3 linked regions of the Homo sapiens genome follow. The protein of the gene in region 3 interacts with the protein of the main gene of each other region in a biochemical or structural test. Each region holds a gene or a part of one and is shown on either strand. Other genes may lie near its edges. The genes, in order: IWS1, TCEA1 and SUPT6H.

Region 1 (7,112 bases), on a different chromosome or scaffold from region 3:
ACTCAGCTAATTTTTTGCATTTTTCGTAGAGACAGGGTTTCACCATGTTAGGCAGGATGGTCTCAATCTCCTGACCTCGTGATCTGCCCACCTCGGCCTCCCAAAGTGCTGGGATTACAGGCGTGAGCCACTGCGCCCGGCGGCATTATAGATGTTTCTAAAGCATCTAAGGACCTTCTGAGTGCTCAATTTCTTTTACCATTACAACTAGGAAATGTGTTACATTATTTTAGAAATGACATTAAATGTCAGTTTCAACTGTTGGTTTGTTGTACTCATCTGACTTTTAAAAAACTGTCTTTTGGATTTTTTTTAAGCTTGCAATTTAATTGCCAAAACCACTCTAAAAACTTTGGATATTGTTTTGATAACTTTTAAGCTTAACTGTATAATTTCCAGCATACTCGTCCCAAATTCTGTGGTGGTGTTGTCTAAGTGTATTCTTTAGCTCGAGTCTATTAAACTAGTACTTCTTTACTGTAGTGATTTCTCCCCTTTTTTGCCCTGTCATGCCATACATAATGCTATGTTTTCGTGAAACTCATAAAAAATTCATGAGGATTCCTAAATTTTACAATCATTGTCTTATGCAGTGTCCTTGTAAGGGTTTGTTTTGGAATGCTACACCATGTGTCAGGAAATCTGGGGTAGAGTGTAGCGGGTGAGTTTTGGATGACTGCCCAGTGTCTCTCACTTCTTTGGGAGTGACTCCCAGTGCTGTGCCCCGATCCAGCTGTAACTGATTGAGTCACAGTTTCTAATATTGCCTTGGCCAGTTAAGTCATCTCTCTTGGGGATTTATAATTTAGGTTCTAGACAGGGTATAGCTGAGTCATGTTACTGATGGTACTCTAGTAAAATGATCCTTGAGTTCCCTTTTCTAAGCTCTCTGTGCTGCGTTGGTACTTAACCTTCCCAAGTGTTTAGTCATTCAACTGACTTTGATCCTGAGAAGATTGTTCTTTTTTTCTGGACTTAGCTAGAGATGATTTCTGTAGTTTCAACTAAAATAAATCAAGTCACACATAGAAATGGTGTTAGAGTTATGTGATGGATATATCATGGAGAGCATTCCAAAAGCCAATTATAATTTTCCTTTTTGCCTCCTGCTTTAATTGCCTCTGCTGGTACTGTATGCCTCTCCCCACCCTCCCGTCTTAACTCAGCCATCACAAACTGCATGCAAACATGCCTGTTGTCTGCACACCTTTTTTTTGCAGCTCAGTTTCATATAGATGCACTTCCAGTACACTTTTGAAATATCATATACATACTTTGTGAATAGTGCATGTCACACTATACTGTTACAGTATGCTTGGCTGGCTCCTCATCAGACAGCAGCTCTTAAGGTCAGGCCCTGTGACATACTCCGCCTGGATTCTTGGTGTCTTGCACGTAGTAGACATGAAATACATTCTTGTTGGATTAATTTTTCCTCACCTTATGTTATTCCCACTTAAGGCCTTTATTACTCATTTAACAAATACACGTTGAGTATCCCTTATCCAAAATGCTTCAAATCAGAAGTGTTTTGGATTTAGAATTTTTTCGAGTTTTGGAATATTTACTTATACAGAGTGAGCTATTTTGGCGATGGAACCCAAGTCTAAACACGAAATTCATGTGTCTTATATACATAGCTGGAAGGTAATTTTACACATTATTTTAAATAATTTTTCACATGAAACAAAGTTTGTGTTGGGTGCTTATGTGTGGAATTTTCCACTTGTGGTGTCATGTCAGTGCTCAAGAAGTTTCAGATTTTGGAGTTGTCTGAATTTTCAGATTAGGAATGCTCGAACTCTACCTAGTGTGTGTATGTTCTGGAGACCATTCTGCACTCTGAGGATACCTCAGGAAAACAAACCAAAATATGTCTGCCTTCCTAGAGCTTACAATCTAGATAGTTAAATTTTCCATCTGCATTCTTTTAAATTATGAAGTGTGGCTAAAGTAAACTTTAGGCAACATACAGACTATTGTACGGTAATTGTAAGATTCTATGATATCTCTCAAGTCCTAATACCGTTTTAATAGATAAGTGCCTGTTTCAGTGGGATAATAGAGCTTGTGACTGACAAGGAATCTAATACAGTACTGTGTTGAGTGCCCAGTGAGAACTCAAGAAAAATGTATTTAGGAATTTTGAAAAGTGTATGATTTTGGAAACTTACCTGAATGTGCTATATTTCAGTGACTGTGTATAGCAATGACTCTTTGCAATGCTGTGCTGTCATAATGGTGATAAAATATTTAAAAACTCTTCAAACATTGGCTTTGTAGGCTATTTTATAATTTTTCATATTCTTTTTGAATTTGTAGACACAGCATACTTGGGTTAGTAAAAGTTTGGGTTTTATGAGAACATTTTCAAGCCATTTATCTTGTCATTGACAAGAATAATCTTGTCACTTAACTGTTTCATAGCATGATGTTGGGCATATATATTATTAAAGGCTCTTTGGTCCTTGAAAATTGGTCTGTGGTAGGTTCACATAGCTTAAGTCATATATCTAACAAGAAATATTTGGCTCAGTAAATTTTTAAGAGGGTATACTCAAACACGGAAATACTTTCACTTTTTAAGCTAGAATATTATTGCCATGTTATTTAAAGTTGAGCTACCAGATGGGAGAAAAAATTCACCGGATCCTAAAATACTTGTTAGTATTTTGGCATGTTTAATTTTGTATATTTTTCTCTGCATTTTAAAGCCATAGCTATAATATGCACATATCAAGTTTGTACCCCAGGGCATGTTTTCAGAGTAATTATTTCAAGTAACATTATGTGTTGGTATAGTTAGATGAATCATGTTCTCCCTAAAACTTAAGCTTTCTTGTTTCTAGGGTTACTAGACACAGGACCGTGACTACTGTAAGCCTCAATTTTGTTATCATGAGAAGTACCATTATGAGGAGTAAATGAACTAACAGGAGAGAGCCTGTTGTGGTATTGGCTCTTAGTGGGTACTTAGGAAATGTTAACTTCTCCTTTCTTTGTTTGCTTAAATTATCTTGGGAGAAGGTGCCCATATGTTATTTGACCCTTTAAATAAAATTAAATTTTATAGTTCTTTTCCCTTAAATAATCTTAACCTTATAAAACCCAAGAATGTTCCTGTGTAAAAGAACTTGGTTACATGTTTGCTTGTATTTCTTTGAAAAATAGAGTTATTTATTTTTATTTATTTATTTTTATTTTTGACAGTCTCACTCTGTCACCCAGGCTGGAGTGCGATGGTGCAATCTCAGCTCACTGCAACCTCCGCCTCCCAGGTTCAAGTGATTCTCCTGCCTCAGCCTCCCTAGTAGCTGGGATTACAGGTGTCCACCACCACGCCCAGCTAATTTTTGTATTTTTAATAGAGACAGGGTTTCACCATGTTGGCCGGGCTGGTCTCGAACTCCTGACCTCAGGTGATCCACCACCTCGGCCTCCCAAAAGGTGTGAGCCACCTTGTCCAGCCTAGAGTTATATTTTTACAAAACAGAAGTATGTATGAGAAAATTCGCCTTTTAAAAAAGAAAAAATCTAGCTCTTCACGGTCAGTTTTCTGTAGTAATCTGAGGGCATGCTTTACAAATCTGTTTTGATGAAGGCTGGTTATATTTCCCCATTTGGGGATCCAAATAAAACCATTTCACTGATTGGCTTTCTGTGGGGGTGTTTCTATATGGGTATAGGACAAGAATTCTCCATTTAGGTGCACATAATCCTGTATTTTAAAAAAATCACAGAAAAAATTTAATGTTTTATTATTAATGGTTTTTTTTTTTTTGCACTTTCCTAATTTTTTCTCACTTTATTTTTCAGAATGAAACTAGTGATCGAGAAGATGGCCTCCCCAAAGGACATCATGTGACAGACTCTGAGAACGATGAGCCCTTAAATCTTAATGCTAGTGACTCTGAAAGTGAGGAGCTTCACAGGCAAAAGGACAGCGACTCTGAATCTGAGGAACGTGCAGAGCCTCCTGCAAGCGATTCTGAAAATGAGGATGTCAATCAGCATGGGAGCGACTCTGAGAGTGAAGAGACCAGGAAATTACCTGGTAGTGACTCTGAAAATGAGGAACTTCTTAATGGGCATGCAAGTGACTCAGAAAACGAAGATGTTGGGAAGCATCCCGCCAGTGATTCTGAGATTGAGGAGCTCCAGAAGAGTCCTGCTAGTGACTCTGAAACAGAAGATGCTCTAAAACCTCAAATCAGTGACTCTGAGAGTGAGGAACCCCCAAGGCACCAAGCCAGTGACTCCGAAAATGAGGAGCCTCCCAAACCTCGAATGAGTGATTCTGAAAGTGAGGAGCTTCCTAAACCTCAGGTCAGTGATTCAGAAAGTGAGGAACCCCCAAGGCACCAGGCCAGTGACTCTGAAAATGAGGAGCTTCCCAAACCTCGTATCAGTGACTCAGAAAGTGAGGACCCTCCGAGGCACCAGGCCAGTGACTCAGAAAATGAAGAGCTTCCCAAACCCCGAATCAGTGATTCGGAAAGTGAGGATCCCCCAAGGAACCAGGCCAGTGATTCGGAAAATGAGGAGCTACCCAAACCCCGAGTCAGTGACTCTGAGAGTGAGGGGCCTCAGAAGGGGCCTGCCAGTGACTCAGAAACTGAGGATGCGTCCAGACACAAACAGAAGCCAGAGTCAGATGATGACAGCGACAGGGAGAATAAGGGAGAGGATACAGAAATGCAGAATGACTCCTTCCATTCAGACAGCCATATGGACAGAAAAAAGTTTCACAGTTCTGATAGTGAGGAGGAAGAACACAAAAAGCAAAAAATGGACAGTGATGAAGATGAAAAAGAGGGTGAGGAGGAGAAAGTAGCGAAGAGAAAAGCTGCTGTGCTTTCTGATAGTGAAGATGAAGAGAAAGCATGTAAGGAGTTACCTTGGGCTGTTTATCAATGGCTTTATTCATTGTCTAAGCTTGTAACTGTGGAACATTGTATCCTCTTGGTATGTCAGATCTGTGTTCTGTTATTCAGCTTAATATTCTAAAATATCAGTAGGACACTCATTTCCCCTGGTTATCATTAGCTAAGCTTAATAGTAAGTTTCCTTGGAGTTCTATTAGCACATATTAATCTCTGACTGCCTCAAAGTGATAAACCACATGTCAATAGGAATATAAAATACTGTTTTTTTTTTTTAAAACTGGAAGAGGTAATGTTTCAAAGAAATACGTTTACATAAAAACCCCTAACTGTATTAATTGTTAGCTGTGGGTCTCTTTGACACTTAGTTCACTAGATCCCATCCAAACAGTAACAGCTCCCACAGGTACATCTCTTCATTTGTTAAACATTGTTGAATATTCAGATACAGGGAAGCTTTGAGAGGATTCTATTTAGAGACACCATCTCTCTCCAGAGTGTTTCAGTCTCTGCTATCTAAGACTCCATTTGCACAGATAGTATTACTTGTCTACTTTTTTATGAAACTTATCTTTTTTGGAAAAGACATATTTCATTATAACCTCACAGTTCTTATAGGAGAAGGAAAAGGTACCAGACATGCTGTCAATTTGTTAAGGGAGATGAGAAATTTCAAACTGACCAGCAATGATAGAGGAACATGGAGACTATTCCTAGAAAGAAATATGTAGTCCTTTTTAGTTCAGTTACTACTAGGCAACATAGAAAGGATGCCAGTTTTGCCCATCAATCTAGTTTTAATTTTCTCGATTTCCCAAAAGGAAAGGTGGCTGCTTTTATATTGATGATATCTTTCTTCATCTTTTGGCCAGTTTTTCTTAAGCAAAATAACAGATAATTTGTAAGATGACTCTGAATGAGCCATTTAGTTATTTTAAAAATTCTAAACCATGTGTCAGGAGGCCCTCTGATTTTATTTTATTTATTTATTTATTTATTTATTTATTTATTTATTTTTGCTGTATACTGCCATCTTAAAGCACCTGTTATGCTTAGTAATACAATGGCTGTGATAAAATAAAATTAATGATGATTTTCTTTTTCAACAGCAGCAAAGAAGAGTCGTGTTGTCTCTGATGCAGATGACTCTGACAGTGATGCTGTATCAGACAAGTCAGGCAAAAGAGAGAAGACCATAGCATCTGACAGTGAGGAAGAAGCTGGGAAAGAATTGTCTGATAAGAAAAATGAAGAGAAGGATCTGTTTGGGAGTGACAGTGAGTCAGGCAATGAAGAAGAGTAAGTGACAGTATAACATGAGTTTTCAGGGGTTCTTAATTAGGCAGTAGAGAGGGGTCTGTGTTATAATACAATATGTCCTGCCTAATTGCATGTCTTTGGGGATTTAGTATTTTAGTTCCTGAACTGAACACACTACAATGTGGGTGAATCTCAGAATTCATCTCAGAATTAACATGTTAAGTGAAAGAAAGCAAAGAGGACATATATGATTCCATTTACATGAAGTTCAGTAGGCAAAATTTATCTGTGGTGTTGGAAGTCAAGGTGGCAGTTGTTTCTAGGATGTTGATATTGGGGACCAGCTAGAAGGGGCCATGAGAGGACTTTCTGGGGAGGCTACATGAGTGTATAGGGTGCTGGTTACATGAGTGTATATATTTGTTAAAACTCATTGAACTGAACACTGAAGATCTGCACATTTTACTGTACATAAATTCTATTTTTTAAAAAATGGTTCCTATGCAAATGAGGATAAAGCAAATGAATGTTTTTACATTTGTCTACTTTCTAGAAATCTTATTGCAGACATATTTGGAGAATCTGGTGATGAAGAGGAAGAAGAATTTACAGTAAGTATAAGATGGAAATATTTCCTCCTTGATTGTGCTTTTTTTTGGTGTTTTTATGGCAGTGATACCATTATAGATGATTCTAATAAGTAGGAATAAACAATTATGATGTATTCAAGATAAAAATCTAGAAGAGGGATTCAGGAAGTAAAATGAAAGCGTATATACAAAGACATAAAAGGAAGCTAATGGGCAAAATTGAATTAAGGGGGAAGGGACACTTTGAGACAAAGAAAGTCACTTTATAATGCTAAAGGGCAAGATTCACAATAATTAGGGAACTTCCGATTTTCACAGTGGCATTCTAGGTGATTTGGACTAACCCCTCTGCCAAGCACAACTAGAAAAGCTAGACAAA
Region 2 (7,112 bases), on a different chromosome or scaffold from region 3:
GCTGGGCGTGGTGGCGGGTGCCTGTAATCCCAGCTACTCAGGAGACTGAGGCAGAGAGCTGCTTGAACCCAGGAAGTGGAGGTTGCAGTGAGCCGAGATCGCGCCACTGCACTCCAGCCTGGGCGACAGAGCGAGACTCCGTCTCAAAAAAACAAAAAACAAAACAAAAAAAAGAAATGTTAATGTCTGGTTGCTGAAGTGCCCAAATCCTGCTGGGGGTATTATGTAATATATGATGTATATACCAAATTATCTTTATCAAATCTGAAAAATCTGGAATTACCAAATATATCAGACCCTAAGGGTTTTGATTAACAAACTCTAGAAGTCTGGACAACACAGCATGACCCCCTCTCTACAAAAAATAAAGATAAAAAATTAGCTGGCCATAGTGCCTGTAGTCCTAGCTACTCCAGAAGCTGAGGCGGGAGGACTGCTCGAGCCCAGAAGCTTGAGATTACATGAACCATGATCGTGCCACGGCAGTCTAGCCTGTGTGGACAGAGTGAGACTCCATTTCTAAAATAAAAATTAAAAAACGACGACGACAAAAAAAAAAAAAAAAAAAAAAGATTGTGGGCCTGTATTCTCCATTTACCATTGACATTTTTCTTCTATCCACATTTCCAGGATTTCTGATCCACTTCTGACCAAGAATCTCTTAATAAGGGTAAAGAATCACACTTCTAGAAGTTCCTTAAAAAGCAGGGTTTCCTAAGTATTAAGTTGATTCTTCCAACATATCAGCAATGAGACATACAGTTTAAATTGTTTTCCAAGTAGAGGCAATATATTTGCATTAATTTTGTTACTTTCCTTTTCTACTCAGCTCTCTGGTGAGGCCATGGTTGGAATAAAAAGCTAAAAGTAACACTCACGGAATAAAACTATGACCTTTCTGAAAACTGCACTGTGTTCCAACTAATTCAAATAAATATTTCACTGAAGGGTCTTTAAGAAATAACTATGGGCTGGGCACGGTGGCTTATGCATGTGGCTCACACCTGTAATCCTAGCACTTTGGGAGACCGAGGTGGGAGGATCAACCTGAGCTCAGGAGTTCGAGACCAGCCTGGCCAACATGGTGAAACTCCATCTCTACTAAAAATACAAAAATTAGCGGGGCGTGGTGGCGGGCACCTGTAATCCCACAGCTACTCAGGAGGCTGAGGCAGGAGAATCACTTGAACCCAGGAGGCGGAGGTTGCAGTGAGCCGAGATCGTGCCACTGCACTCCAACCTGGACGATAGAGCAAAACTCCATCTCAAAAAAAAAAAAAAAAAAAAAACAAAAAACAGACAAACAAAAAGAAATAACTATGATGATCTGAATGAGTGAAATGCAAAACAGATAATCATACATTAATTCGGTGACAACAAACTTTGAGTGCTGCTATGTGCTTGGCATTGTTAAATACTTCACATAGATTTAATTCCACCTTCACCATAAACCCTATAGAAGCAGGTATTATCTCCATTTTACAGATGAGGAAATATGTCAAGAAACTTGCACAAGGTTCTATGATTACTAACTAGAAAAGGTAAGATCTACTCCAGTAATGTCAAATGTACCAAGCTCTACTGTACTGGGGATACAGCAGTGAGCAAGACTGAAACCCTTTCTGACATCAGGGAATTTTAAAACAAACAGAAATCTTTAATCATCTATTTCAAACCCTTAACTACACACAAAAAAAAGAAACTTAAACCCAGAAAAGAAAAGTGACTTGCCCAAGGTCATACTGACGGGTAGTAAGGTCATGAACTAGTCGCCTGACCCTTATACTGCTGCCCTTTCCCCAGCAGTGCGCCAGTGGCAGCACTCCTTTGTGAATTCAGATGACTAGTATCACCAAACAAGAAGCTGTATTTTAGCCTTCCCCAAGCATCACCTAGCTCTAAATGTCAAGCCTAGGCCAGGCACAATGGCTCAGCCTGTAATCCCAGCACTCTGGGAGGCCTAAGGCAGGAGGATCACTTGAGCCCAGGGGTTCGAGACCAGCCTGGATAACAGAATGAGATCCCACCTCTATTTAAAAAAAAAGAAAAGAAAAGAATACATGTCCAAGTCTATGAGATTGTAGCATCTCCTACAGATGATGCAAGAGAAAGAAAGACTCTTCTTTAATTTCCAGAGCCAAATTTAGTTCACACTACTGGCTGAAAGATAAACTACAGCTATCACACTATTTTATTACATTGTTGGTGCTCCTATCTGGTAATAGAAAACAAGTGATTTTATAAACCATGATACTTGTACTATGTGCTCAGTATACTCAAGACCATGTAGGATACGAACATCCCTCTCCTCAAGGAGATGTAAAAAGGAGGGAGTAATAGGGATTTATAGTTAAGAATATGGTGTACATATATGACAGATTTAGATTCAAATCCATGCTCTGACATTTGCTAACTACAAGATCTGGGTAATGTTATTTGTCCTTTTCAAGCTTCAGCTTCTTTATACGTAGGTGAGCATAACACACCAACCTTGAGTAGTTAAAACAGCCAAATGAGGCAACATTACACAGATAAAGTATCAAAATAGAGGGTCTGACACATAGCATGGTTGATGAGGAGTACAAAAATATACAAATAATTACTTATTTCTACCATAACAATAATCTCCAGGGGCCATAAGCCAGCATTTTCAGTGATCATATTTAAGCTCAATCAAGTAAAACAGTTACTTCTTCTATAATAATGTCTTCTTCATAGGCATTATTATAAGATTTCAAGGTTAAAGAATTAAGATATTATCCATTTTTTTTTTTTTGAGACAGTCTCACTGTGTCGCCCAGGCTGGAGTGCAGTGGCGTGATCTCAGTTCGCTGCAACCTCTACCTCCTGGGTTCAAGCGATTATCCTGCCTCAGCCTCCCAAGCAGCTGGGACTACAGGCGCCCACCACCACGCCCAACTAATTTTTGTATTTTCAGTAGAGATGGGGTTTCACTATGTTAGCCAGGCTGGTCTTGAACTCCTGACCTCGTGATCTGCCCACCTCAGCCTCCCAAAGTGCTGGGATTACAGGTGTGACCCACCATGCCTGGCCCATTATCTATTTTCTTAAACAATGAATTATAGATATTTGAGTTGTAGCTCAATAACATCACTATAAAGCTAGGACTTATGATATTACTATGTCATCTCAAATTTGCAGTTAAACTACACCAAAAGCACAAGCAACAAAAGAAAAATATATATAAATTCATCTTCATCAAAATTAGAATATTTTATACTTCAAAGGCCACAACCAAGAGCAGACAGACAACCCACAGAATGGGAGACAGTATCAGCATATCTAACAAGGTTCTAGTATTCAGAATATAAAGAACTCTTACAACTCAATAATAAAAAGACAACCCAATTTAAAAATGGACTAATCCAATTTGTACTCCAGCCTGGGCAACATAGCCAGACCCTGACTCTTTTCTAAAAAATGGGCAAAGGATCTGAATAGACATTTATTTCTCCATAGAAGATATGCAAATGGCCACAAAGCAATGAAAAGATGCTCAACATTGTTAATCACAAGGGACATGCAAATCAAACCCACAATGAAATACCACTTTACACCCACTAGGAAGGCTATAATCAAGACAAATGATATTGGTGAAAATGAGGTGAAACTGGAATCCTCACACACTGCTAGTTGGAATGTAAAATGGTGCAGCCACACTGGAAAGGTCTGGCAGTTCCTCAAAAGGTTAAACATAGTTACTATATGACCCAGTAATTATTCTCCGAGGTATACACCCAACAGAAATGAAAACATATGTCGCCAGGCGCGGTGGCTCACGCCTGTAATCCCGGCACTTTAGGAGGCCGAGGCGGGCAGATCATGAAGTCAGGAGATCGAGACCATCCTGGCTAATACAGTGAAACCCAGTCTCTACTAAAAATACAATAGCCGGGCATGGTGCTGGGTGCCTGTAGCCCCAGCTACTCGGGAGGCTGAGGCAGGAGAATGGTGGGAACCCGGGAGGCGGAGCTTACAGTGAGCCATCACACCACTGCACTCCAGCCGGGGTGACAGAGCGAGACACTTGTACAGCAATGTTTTTAACAGTATTATTCACAACAGCCAAAAAGCTGAAACAGCCCAAATGTCCACCAAATGATGAATGAATAAGCAAATCGTGGTTGGGTGCAGTGGCTCACATCTGTAATCCCAGCACTTTGGGAGGCTGAAGCGGGTAGATCACCTGAGATCAGGAGTTCTAGACCAGCTTGGCCGACATGGTGAAACCCTGTCTCTACTAAAAATACAAAAATCAGGCCAGGCGGTGTGGCTCACGCGTGGAAATCCCAGCACTTTGGGAGGCCAAGACAGGCGGATTATGAGGTCAGGAGTTTGAGACCGGCCTGGCCAATATGGTGAAACCCCATCTCTACTAAAAATACAAAAATTAGCCGGGTGTGGTGGTGCGCGCCTATAGTCCCAGCTACTCGGGAGGCTGAGACAGGAGAACTGCTTGAACCTGGGAGGCGGAGGTTGCAGTGAGCCGAGATCGCGCCACTGCACTCCAGCCTGAGCGACAGAGCAAGATGAGACTCCGTCTCAAAAAAAAAAAAAAAAAAAAAAGACTATACTAAGCAAAAGAGGCCAGTTACAAAAGACCACATACTGTATAATTTCACTGACAGAAAATTTCCAGATTTGGCAAACACACAGACAGAAAGTATATTAGTGGCTGTCAGAGGCGTGTGAGAAATTGGTGGGGGCAAATGAGGGCTGAATGAGGAGTGACTGCTTAATAGGTACAGGGTTTCTTTTTGGAGTGATGAAAATGTTCTAAAATTATACAGTAGTAATAGTTGCACAAACCCGTAAATACACTAAAAGCCACTGAATTAACAGTTGACCCTCAAATAACATGGGTTTAAACTGCACAGATTCACCTGAGAATTTTCTTTCACCTCTGCAACCCTAGATGACAAAACCAACTCTTCCTTTCTCCTCAGCTTATTCAATGTGAAGACAAAGAGGATGAAGACCTTTACGACGACACATTTCCACTTCATGAACAGTAAACATATTTTCTCTCCTTTATTTCTTTTCTTTTCTTTTTTGAGACATTGTCTCGCTCTGTCACCCAGGCTAAGTGCCTATAATCCCAACATTTTGGGAGGCCAAGGCAGGCAGATCACTTGAGTTCAGGAGTTCTAGATCAGCCTGGGCAATATGGTGAAACCCCATCTCTATAAAAAATACCCAAAAAAGGCTGGGCTCAGTGGCTCACGCCTGTAATCCCAGCAATTTGGGAGGCCGAGGCAGGTGAATCACTTGAGGTCAGGATGTGGAGACCAGCCTGAGAAAAATGGTAAAATCCCATCTCTACTAAAAATACAAAATTAGTTGGGTGTGGTGGCACGCACTTGTAGTCCCAGCTACTCGGGAAGCTGAGGTGGGAGAGCTGCTTAAACCCAGGAGGCGGAGGTTGCAGTGAGCCAAGATCATGCCACCACACTCCAGCCTGAGTGACATGACTGCATGAGTTATACTACTACAAAAGTTATACTACTTGACTGCATGCGGGTAGGGAGGGGGGATAGTGTGAGCACCACAACCCTTGCATTGTTCAAGAGTCAACTACACTTTAAGAATGAATTTAATTCTATTTCTCGATAAAGCTGTTATTAAAAATTGTATAGTCATTCTAAATTTTGAATTATGCTAATTAATCTAACTCTGATATAGATATCAAAGTTTTGTTGCAGTTGTTATTTTAACTGAGGTACTTGGAAATGTAAATCAATATTTCAGGTATCCCAGCTCCTACGAAATTCTAACATCTAATTTCAATTTCTCTCCCTGCAATTTAATTCCACTCAACCTTGAGCCTTCAATGAAATAAATAAATAAACCTCAGCACTACCCACAAAATCTCTCCATGAACTTCAAAACTTTATGTCCTTGCCTCACTCCTCCTTCTATAATCTAAATGAATCCTTTACAAAGAAAGGCAACCTCAGATTGTTTTTTAGGCCTTATTACATCCTTTAGGCCCACAATCCTACACTAGAAGCATTTTATATTCACTTAATCCTTACTAAATTATCTCCAGTTTACCATGACGAGAAACATTTTAGTGATGACAAAGAACTTGCCTAAAATCACACAGCTAAAGTTCAGAAAAGTTCAGAAAAGCCAGGATTTGAACCCACATTAGCAGTCAGACTTGGTTACTGACACCGAATCAAAGTGACAAGAAAACAGCTTAAGCAGAAAACAGCTAATACCTAAAAATTTCGAACTACTTTCTGTGGTTCACTGTGGCTTGGTCATGTGCACTTGAGATCAAGTACACATGTGGGACAACATCTTGGGTAGAACTAGGGTCAGGATATTGATCTAGGTAACTAGGGAAACACACCTGCCCCAAAACAGCAAGTTCATACTCTTACTTCCTGATTTTGTATTCACTTAATTGTATCCATGCATGGTTCAAGAGCAGATGCAAGGGTCTTCTAGAGAGACACTGTAGCTTAAGAGAGGAGTACTAGCTTTGGAGCAAAACAGATTTAGATTCACATCTTCACTTGGCCATTCACTAGCTATTTGGCTTAAGACTATTCTAAATACTTAGCATCCTCATTTTCAGAATGAGGATAATACTCATCTTGCAAAGTTGCCTGAGGAATAAATGGGATAAGGTGGGTAAGTATTTAGCAGAATACCTGGCTCAGAGTAATAGCTCAATAAATGGTAAGCTGTTTTTAGTTAAGTGTGACACCTATGGTTTTAGTAAAACAAAATTATTCAGGTAAAGCAGCAGCATGTTAAAATATTTTTTTAAATGATATCTAAATTTGCACTTAAATTTGTCAATTCTGATGACAACTATTACTCTTCAAAGTTAACTTTTTCAGGCTGGGCGCAGTGGCTCACATCTGTAATCCCAGCACTCTGGGAGGCCAGGACGGGCAGATCACCTGAGATCAGGAGTTCAAGACCAGCCTGGCCAATACGTTGAAATCCCATCTCTACTAAAAATACGAAAATTAGCCAGGCATGGTGGTGCACACCTGTAGTCCCAGCTTCTAGGGAGGCTGAGGCAAGAGAATCGCTTGAACTGGGGAGGCGGAGGTTGCAGTGAGCCGAGATTG
Region 3 (7,112 bases):
GCCCACCTCGGCCTCCCAAAGTGCTGGGATTACAGGCGTGAGCCACCACACCTAGCCATCTTTTTCTTATGACAGTATCACTCTTTTGCCTAGGCTGAAGTGTAGTGGTGCAATCAGGGTTCACTGCAGCCTCAACCTCCCAGGCTCGAGTGATCCTTCCACCTTGGCCTCTCGAGTAGCTGGGACTATAAGCGCACGCCCCCAAGTCTGGGTAATCTTTTTTTTTTTTTTTTTTGAGACAGAGTCTTGCTCTGTTGCCCAGGCTGGAGTGCAGTGGCACAATCTTGGCTCACTGCAAGCTCTGCCTCCCGGGTTCACGCCATTCTCCTGCCTCTGCCTCCCGAGTAGCTGGGACTACAAGCGCCCGCCACCATGCCCAGCTAATTTTTTGTATTTTTAGTAGAGATGGGGTTTCACTGTGTTAGCCAGGATGGCCTCGATCTCCTGACCTCGTGATCCACCTACCTTGGCCTCCCAAAGTGCTGGGATTATAGGCGTGAGCCACTGCACCCGGTTAAGCCTGGCTAATTTTATTTTGTAGAGATAGGGTTTTGCCATGTTGCTCAGGTTGGTCTTGAACTCCTGGGCAAGCACTCCACCTGCCTCGGCCCCTGAAAGTGCTGGGATTACTGGTGTGACTGTGCCCCATCCTCTTTTATGTTTATCCAACTTAGATCCCTTTAGCTGCAACTGAGGCCCCTCCCTTTTGTGTTTTTTTTTGAGATAGGAGTCTCACCACCACACCCTGCTAATCCTTATATTTTTAGTAGAGATGGGGTTTCATCATGTTGGTCAGGCTGGTCTGGAACTCCTGACCTCAGGTGATCCAACTGCCTCAGCCTCCCAAAGTACTGGGATTACAGGCATGAGCCACTGTGCCCGGCCTGGCCCCTCCCCACTTTTTTTTTTTTTTTGAGACAGAGTCTCGCTGTCGCCCAGGCTGGAGTACAGTGGTGCAATCTCGGCTCACTGCAGGCTCCGCCTCCCGGGTTCACACCATTCTCCTGCCTCAGCCTCCCGAGTAGCTGGGACTACAGGCGCCCACCACCATGCCTGGCTAATTTTTTGTATTGTTTAGTAGAGACAGGGTTTCACCGTGTTAGCCAGGATGGTCTCGATCTCCTGACCTCATGATCCGCCCGCCTCAGCCTCCCAAAGTGCTGGGATTACAGGAGTGAGCCACCGCGCCCGGCCAGCCCCTCCCTTTTTTTAAAAAAGGAGATGGGGTCTTGCTATGTTGCCCAGGCTGGCCTCGAACTCCTGGGCTCAAGAAATCCTCCCAAATTAGCCTCTGATGTAGCTGGCACTATACGTACGTGCCACCATGCCTGTCTGCCATTTTGTTTTGACCCAGCGACCATAAGAAGTTTCTTTTTTTTTTTTTTTGAGACGGAGTCTCGCTCTTTCGCCCAGGCTGGAGTGCAATGCTGCTATCTTGGCTCACTGCAAGCTCCATCTCCTGGGTTCACGCCATTCTCCTGTCTCAGCCTCCTGAGTGGCTGGGACTACAGGTGGCCGCCACCGTGCCTGGCTAATTTTTTGTATTTTTAGTAGAGACGGGGTTTCACCGTGTTAGCCAGGATGGTCTCGATCTCCTGACCTCATGATCCGCCCGCCTCGGCCTCCCAAAGTGCTGGGATTACAGGCGTGAGCTACTGCGCCCGGCCGACCATAAGAAGTTTCTAAGTCAGCCTTTTTTTTTCCTTTTCTGAGATGAAGTCTCATTCTGTCACCCAGGCTGCAGTGCAGTGGTATGATCTCGGCTCACTGCAAACTCCGCCTCCTCGGTTCAAGTCATTCTCCTGCCTCAGCCTCTCGAGTAGCTAGGATTACAGGCGTATGCCACCACAACTGGCTAATTTTTGTATTTTTAGTAGAGACGGGGGTTCACCATCTTGGCCAGGCTGGTCTCGAACCCCTGATCTCAGATGAACCGCCCACCTTGGCCCCCAAAGTGCTAGGATTATAGGCGTGAGCCACCGTGCCCAGCTATGTCAGCCTTCTCAGAAGGGACTTCATGCTAAACCTGTGTGTTTCCCGTCCGTCTTCCTTCTTTGTGTACTTGTTTGGTGAGAGAATGATCTAGAACACCCTCATTTCTGATTCCCTTCTAGGCACCGAGATCATTCAACCAAGGAAATCCACTGAGCAGGATAATGCTGCAGCACACACCTCGCTTAGTTCAGGGAAATTGTCCTGCTGACAGAAGGGGCACTGCCACAGCCCTGTCTCATCATTGCGGATCGCCTGGTCATAGCTCTCACCCTGGGGACGCCTGTGGGCAATGCCAGTGACATTGCAGATGATGAGCTTTCCTGCAAGAAGGAAAAGAGGATGGGGAGCAGGCTCAGAGAATGTGGAGAGCACTTCTTTCCACCAGCCTTTCAGTGACAGAATATCTGACTTCCTTCCCATCCTTGAAGAGGGAACTCTTCCCGATTTTTATTTATTTATTTATTTTTGAGATGAAGTCTTGCTCTGTTGCCCAGGCTGCAGTGCAGTGGTGCTATCTTGGCTGACTGTAACCTCTGCCTCCCAGGTTCAAGGAATCCTCCTGCCTCAGCCTCCCGAGTAGCTGGGATTACAGGTGCCCACCACCACGCTCAGCTAATTTTTTATTTTTAGTGGAGATGGGGTTTCACCATGTTGCCCAGACTGGTCTCGAACTCCTGGCCTCAAGCAGTCTGCCTGCCCTGGCCTCCCAAAGTGCTGGGATTACAGGCATGAGCCACTGTGCCTGGCCGTTCCCCTGATTTGATGATAGGGGAAAATAAAGCCTATAAGAAGACTAACTGCATGAAGATTCCATAGCACACTGGAAGCACATTTGACCTTAAATTCAGTTTTGATTTCCAGTCCAGGACTCTTTAGTCTTTTAAAATGCTCTCCTGGCCTTCCCCATGTACAACACAAACCTGCCTCAATCTGTTGGAACTGCTGCTTGGTTTGAATGTACACAGTAAACACACCTCCTGCCCCCAATAAAAAAATGACCCCAGAATTTACCAATGTAGAAGGTCTCTGGTGTTTCTTTGGTTAACATATTGAAGATCTCCTCTGTGTTGGGAGAGCGGTAGGCTGTCCGGAGGTCCTTATATCGACAGCTCAGCTCTGCCCGGATGTCATAGAGTGTGATGTGTTTGTCACCATAGCCCTGGGGAAGAAGCCCATCAAGAAGAGCCTTGCAGCTGCCCCCCAACCTGAGCCTCAAGGAGTCCCGTGGAAGGGGCGGGCCTCTCCAGATGGGAGTAAGTTTCTGTCAGGGCTTCTTCTTTTCTTTCCATCAACATTTACTAAAGGTGGTTTTCAAACTTAGCCATGAAACACTGTAATCAAAATGCTTTATGGAACCCCAATGAGTCCACAGATAAATGCAAAGCTGTGCTGTTAGAAAGGAGGAAAGGGGGCCTAGACGGAAACTGTAGTACTGACATCCTCCCAACTCCCTCCTGCCCCTTGTAATTATGGTGGCAATCTCTGAGACTTCCCTGGCTCCTTAACAAGCAGACCAAAAACTTCCTTGAGGAGCCCAGTAGAGCAGGGCAGGGAGATGAGGATCAAGTCTGCCATACTAACAGTATCAGGCTTTCTCTGCACACTCACTGCCCAAGTCTCCTACCAACCTGGCCACTTGGGATGGGTTCTCCTGCCGGGCCTTCCATGCTGTCCCTTACCTGCCTCTCCAGCTCTTCTGCAAAGGCATCAAGGTCCAGGTCTTTCAGTCGCTCTGGGTTTTCCAAGATTTCTTCAAGGGCTCCTGCAGGATTGGCATCCTCGGCTGATTCATCGTATTCCAGGGCATCCACTGCCATCTTCCTAGCCCACTCATAAGTCTCAGGGTGGACACGGGAACCATCAAGGACTTCAATATATGAGTCAGTGCTGGAGGAAAGGCAGAAAAGGAACAGGATATAGAACGATAAGCTTCTAGTAACAACCCAAATGTCCACCAATGGGGAACTGGTTAAATAAATTAGGGCACCTCCATACAATGGAATACTATACAGCCATTAACAAGAATGAGGTAGATCTATGTGTGCTGACATGGAAAGATGGCCACAATATATTGATACGTGAAAAATGCACTGCAAAAACACTATGAACCATATGATCCCATTTTTGTAGTAAATGGGTAGTTAGTAAATGCATAGCAAAAATAAAATTTAGAAAAACTGTAGTATACATAAAATTGTTATGGTAGTTATCTCTGGGGGGTGGGATTATGGGGGACTTCCACTTTCTGCATAATATTTCTATATGTTGAATTTTATATGATGAACTTATATGAGTCTCATAATAAGATAAATCAAGAAAGGGGAAAAAAACCTTTGAAAATTTGCTGATAGCTATTTTCCCCCATAAAGCCTTCCCAGGCTGGTCTTGCCCGTGCACTCACATGGACCTATGTTATTCGTGGAGTGTTACAGCAAAGCTGAGTGGAAAATGAAGTTTTAGAACTTGAAGCCTATTTCCCCACTGATTTCCATTACTGAATGAGGAGCTATGTGCCCGTGGAAAAGATCCTCCAAAGACTGAGTTGATAACTTCTGGAGAGGAAGAGGTCAATAGTGAAGTCCAAAGTCCAAGTGAATAGAACTTTCTCTTAATAACATCATCTCAAAACATACCAAATCTCTCTCCCCCTTCCTTATCTCTTTATACCCCCAAACTCCTTTTTCATTGCCCCCGCTATTCCCACCCTTATCTGGCCACAACAAACCATAATAATAAAAAAGCAAGTTTGTGTTTACTGAACAAAATCTTGTGTTTTCCATGCTTAATTTATAAGCTAAGCTGGTACTTTTTATGTTTCTCTCACACGAAAAATGTTTCACATGATTGAACCGATCTTTTCCATAGGTCAGGGGCTCTTGACTGAATAAAGTTCCTTACCTTTTCTTTAAAACATTTCCTAAGTTAAAATGGCTTGTGGCCCTTTGATAGCCCTAACCCCTGAAACCCGAAAACAAAGCCCACAAGGGAATTCCTCCTGCCCCATCCAGGCAGAGGGCATCACCTGTCCCCCAGGGAGGCCGTGTCGATCTTGAGGAAGCCAGCACAATTCATGAAGACTTTGGGACCCATGTGGCACATGGTGACCAGCTGGGTCCGGCTCTCGAGCCGGGTGTTGTTCTGCTTCAGGATCTGGGGGAGAGAGCTGGACTGAGCCAGGGCAGTAAGCAGGCCCCACCTCCCCAGACTGTTCCAGTCTCTATTAAACCCTCATAACAAAAACTCTGTCCCACCCAGTATCTAGTTGAGCACTACAGCATGCTATCGACCACTCAAAATTAAAAAAAAAAAAAAAAAAGTTTTGCTTTAAATGGGAAAATAATAAACAAATAAATGATGTTATACCTACACCAAAGACCATATACAACTAATGTATGGCTTATAAGTTACAAGTTAACACTAGTTGGCCGGGCGCAGTGGCTCATGCCTGTAATCCCAGCACTTTGGGAGGCTGAGGCGGGTGGATCACCTGGGGTCAGGAGTTTGAGACCAGTCTGGCCAACATGGTGAAACCCCGTCTCTACTAAAAATACAAAAAATTAGCTGGGTGTGGTGGTGCAAGCAGCAGTGAAGGGCACAGCTTTGGCCAACTGGGTCTGAAGTCAGACTCTTTTGACTCTCACTAGCTGAGTGATTTTGGACAAGTCACTGACCTTGGTCCTCCCAATCTGTCAAATTATACTGACAAAGTATATATTCATATTCAATGAAATGGCAAGTTTTAAAATTTCTGAATTCACTCCAATCCTACCTTCAGGAGGTGGGTCCCTTTCCGAGGTCCCAGGCCACAAACATACTGGATCAAGGCCTGGCTGTAAGGGTGGGCAATGGCACGGTTGACATCGACCCCGACCTCATTGACTCGGTTGATAAATTCACAGTACAAGGCGTTGAGCAGCTCCTCTTTCACCACATGCTCCTGTGGACATTCAGCAGGCAGGAGTAAGGTTACTCTGCCTTTCCCTTCACCCGAGCCTGCCTGTCAAATCCTACTCACCTGCAAGGGGTGAAACTTGAGACACAGGATGTCTTCATCGGAACTGCACACCTGGGCAAATTCAATCAGAGGGTCCTGGATGCGCCGGGCCAGGGAGACGGCCTGTCTCAGCACTGGAGGATAATCCCGGAACTCTGCCTAGAGTCAAACGAGGGTCAGCAGGGCCTTAAAATCCCCTTAGCTACAACATCAAGAGGAAATCCAAACCATTCTGGTTTAAATCATTTTCTCTGCTTCTCTGGGATCTTTTTTCCTGAGACCGATTTAATTTCTGGGACTCCCAATCTGAACCGTAACTGCAAAACGGAGAACTTCTGCATGGATAAGTACACAGGTACAGTCCTGTGCCCCTGATAACTTTTGTTTCCCAATTTAATCTCTTTGGGATTAATAGCACTTGCCTGGGCAGGCCCTAAGGGTGAGGCTCCAGCATTACCTCTGACTTCTTGCTGTTCATATAGAGAATGGCCAACTCGTTGTCAACCAGCTCTACCCCAATAGATGACAGCTGCTGGCCCTGGTCCAGCTCATGTACAATGCGCTTCACATCTTCAATCAACATCTGGGCGTCCCTGGTGGGATGAGTGTTGGTCAATGAATATGTTTTCTTAGGGATGGACAGTCTCATGACTGCCTTGGGGGTGAAGAGGTAGGGGAGGAAAGGGCTTTGAAGAAAATGAGGTCAAACATCCCCAGGGACACTCCCTGCACAAGCACAAGCCCCATCTGTTATGGGCATATGCCAGACTCAATAATAAGGGATGAGTTGGGTCACGGCCTTAAACCAGGTGTGGTCTAATCCCTACCTACCTGTTCTCTCCTGCAACTGTCACTACATGAGGCTTCTTATTCAGGAGAAATTTCTTTAGCGTTTCAATGTCTTGAGCCTGGATTGAAAGAAAATTGAAGCTGAATGGCTCTGAGGATGTAAAGATTTCAGGAAATTCTGTCTCCCTATGTTGGAGATCTTGTAAGAACTGGAAGTCTTCAGAAGATATCTGGTCCAAGGTGCTACCAAGGAACTATTCCCACCTCTTCCTGAAAGTTGGCCAACCCTGCCTCTGCTTAATAATTCCACTGACTAGAACTGCGCTCCAGTGGT

The links.
Region 1: the proteins of SUPT6H (region 3) and IWS1 form a complex in vitro, tested with the Homo sapiens proteins (one study listed by BioGRID).
Region 2: the proteins of SUPT6H (region 3) and TCEA1 form a complex in vitro, tested with the Homo sapiens proteins (one study listed by BioGRID).

Annotation. Positions count from the first base shown.
Region 1 is NC_000002.12:127,502,457-127,509,568, reverse strand, and holds part of IWS1 (protein IWS1 homolog), read left to right. Parts: intron 1-3,816; coding exon 3,817-4,885; intron 4,886-5,992; coding exon 5,993-6,182; intron 6,183-6,696; coding exon 6,697-6,754; intron 6,755-7,112.
Region 2 is NC_000008.11:54,012,414-54,019,525, forward strand, and holds part of TCEA1 (transcription elongation factor A protein 1), read right to left. Parts: intron 1-7,112.
Region 3 is NC_000017.11:28,686,124-28,693,235, reverse strand, and holds part of SUPT6H (transcription elongation factor SPT6), read right to left. Parts: intron 6,898-7,112; coding exon 6,821-6,897; intron 6,583-6,820; coding exon 6,447-6,582; intron 6,149-6,446; coding exon 6,011-6,148; intron 5,933-6,010; coding exon 5,765-5,932; intron 5,146-5,764; coding exon 5,018-5,145; intron 4,548-5,017; coding exon of another isoform or gene 4,502-4,547; exon of another isoform or gene 4,397-4,501; intron 3,883-4,396; coding exon 3,675-3,882; intron 3,155-3,674; coding exon 3,007-3,154; intron 2,316-3,006; coding exon 2,173-2,315; intron 1-2,172.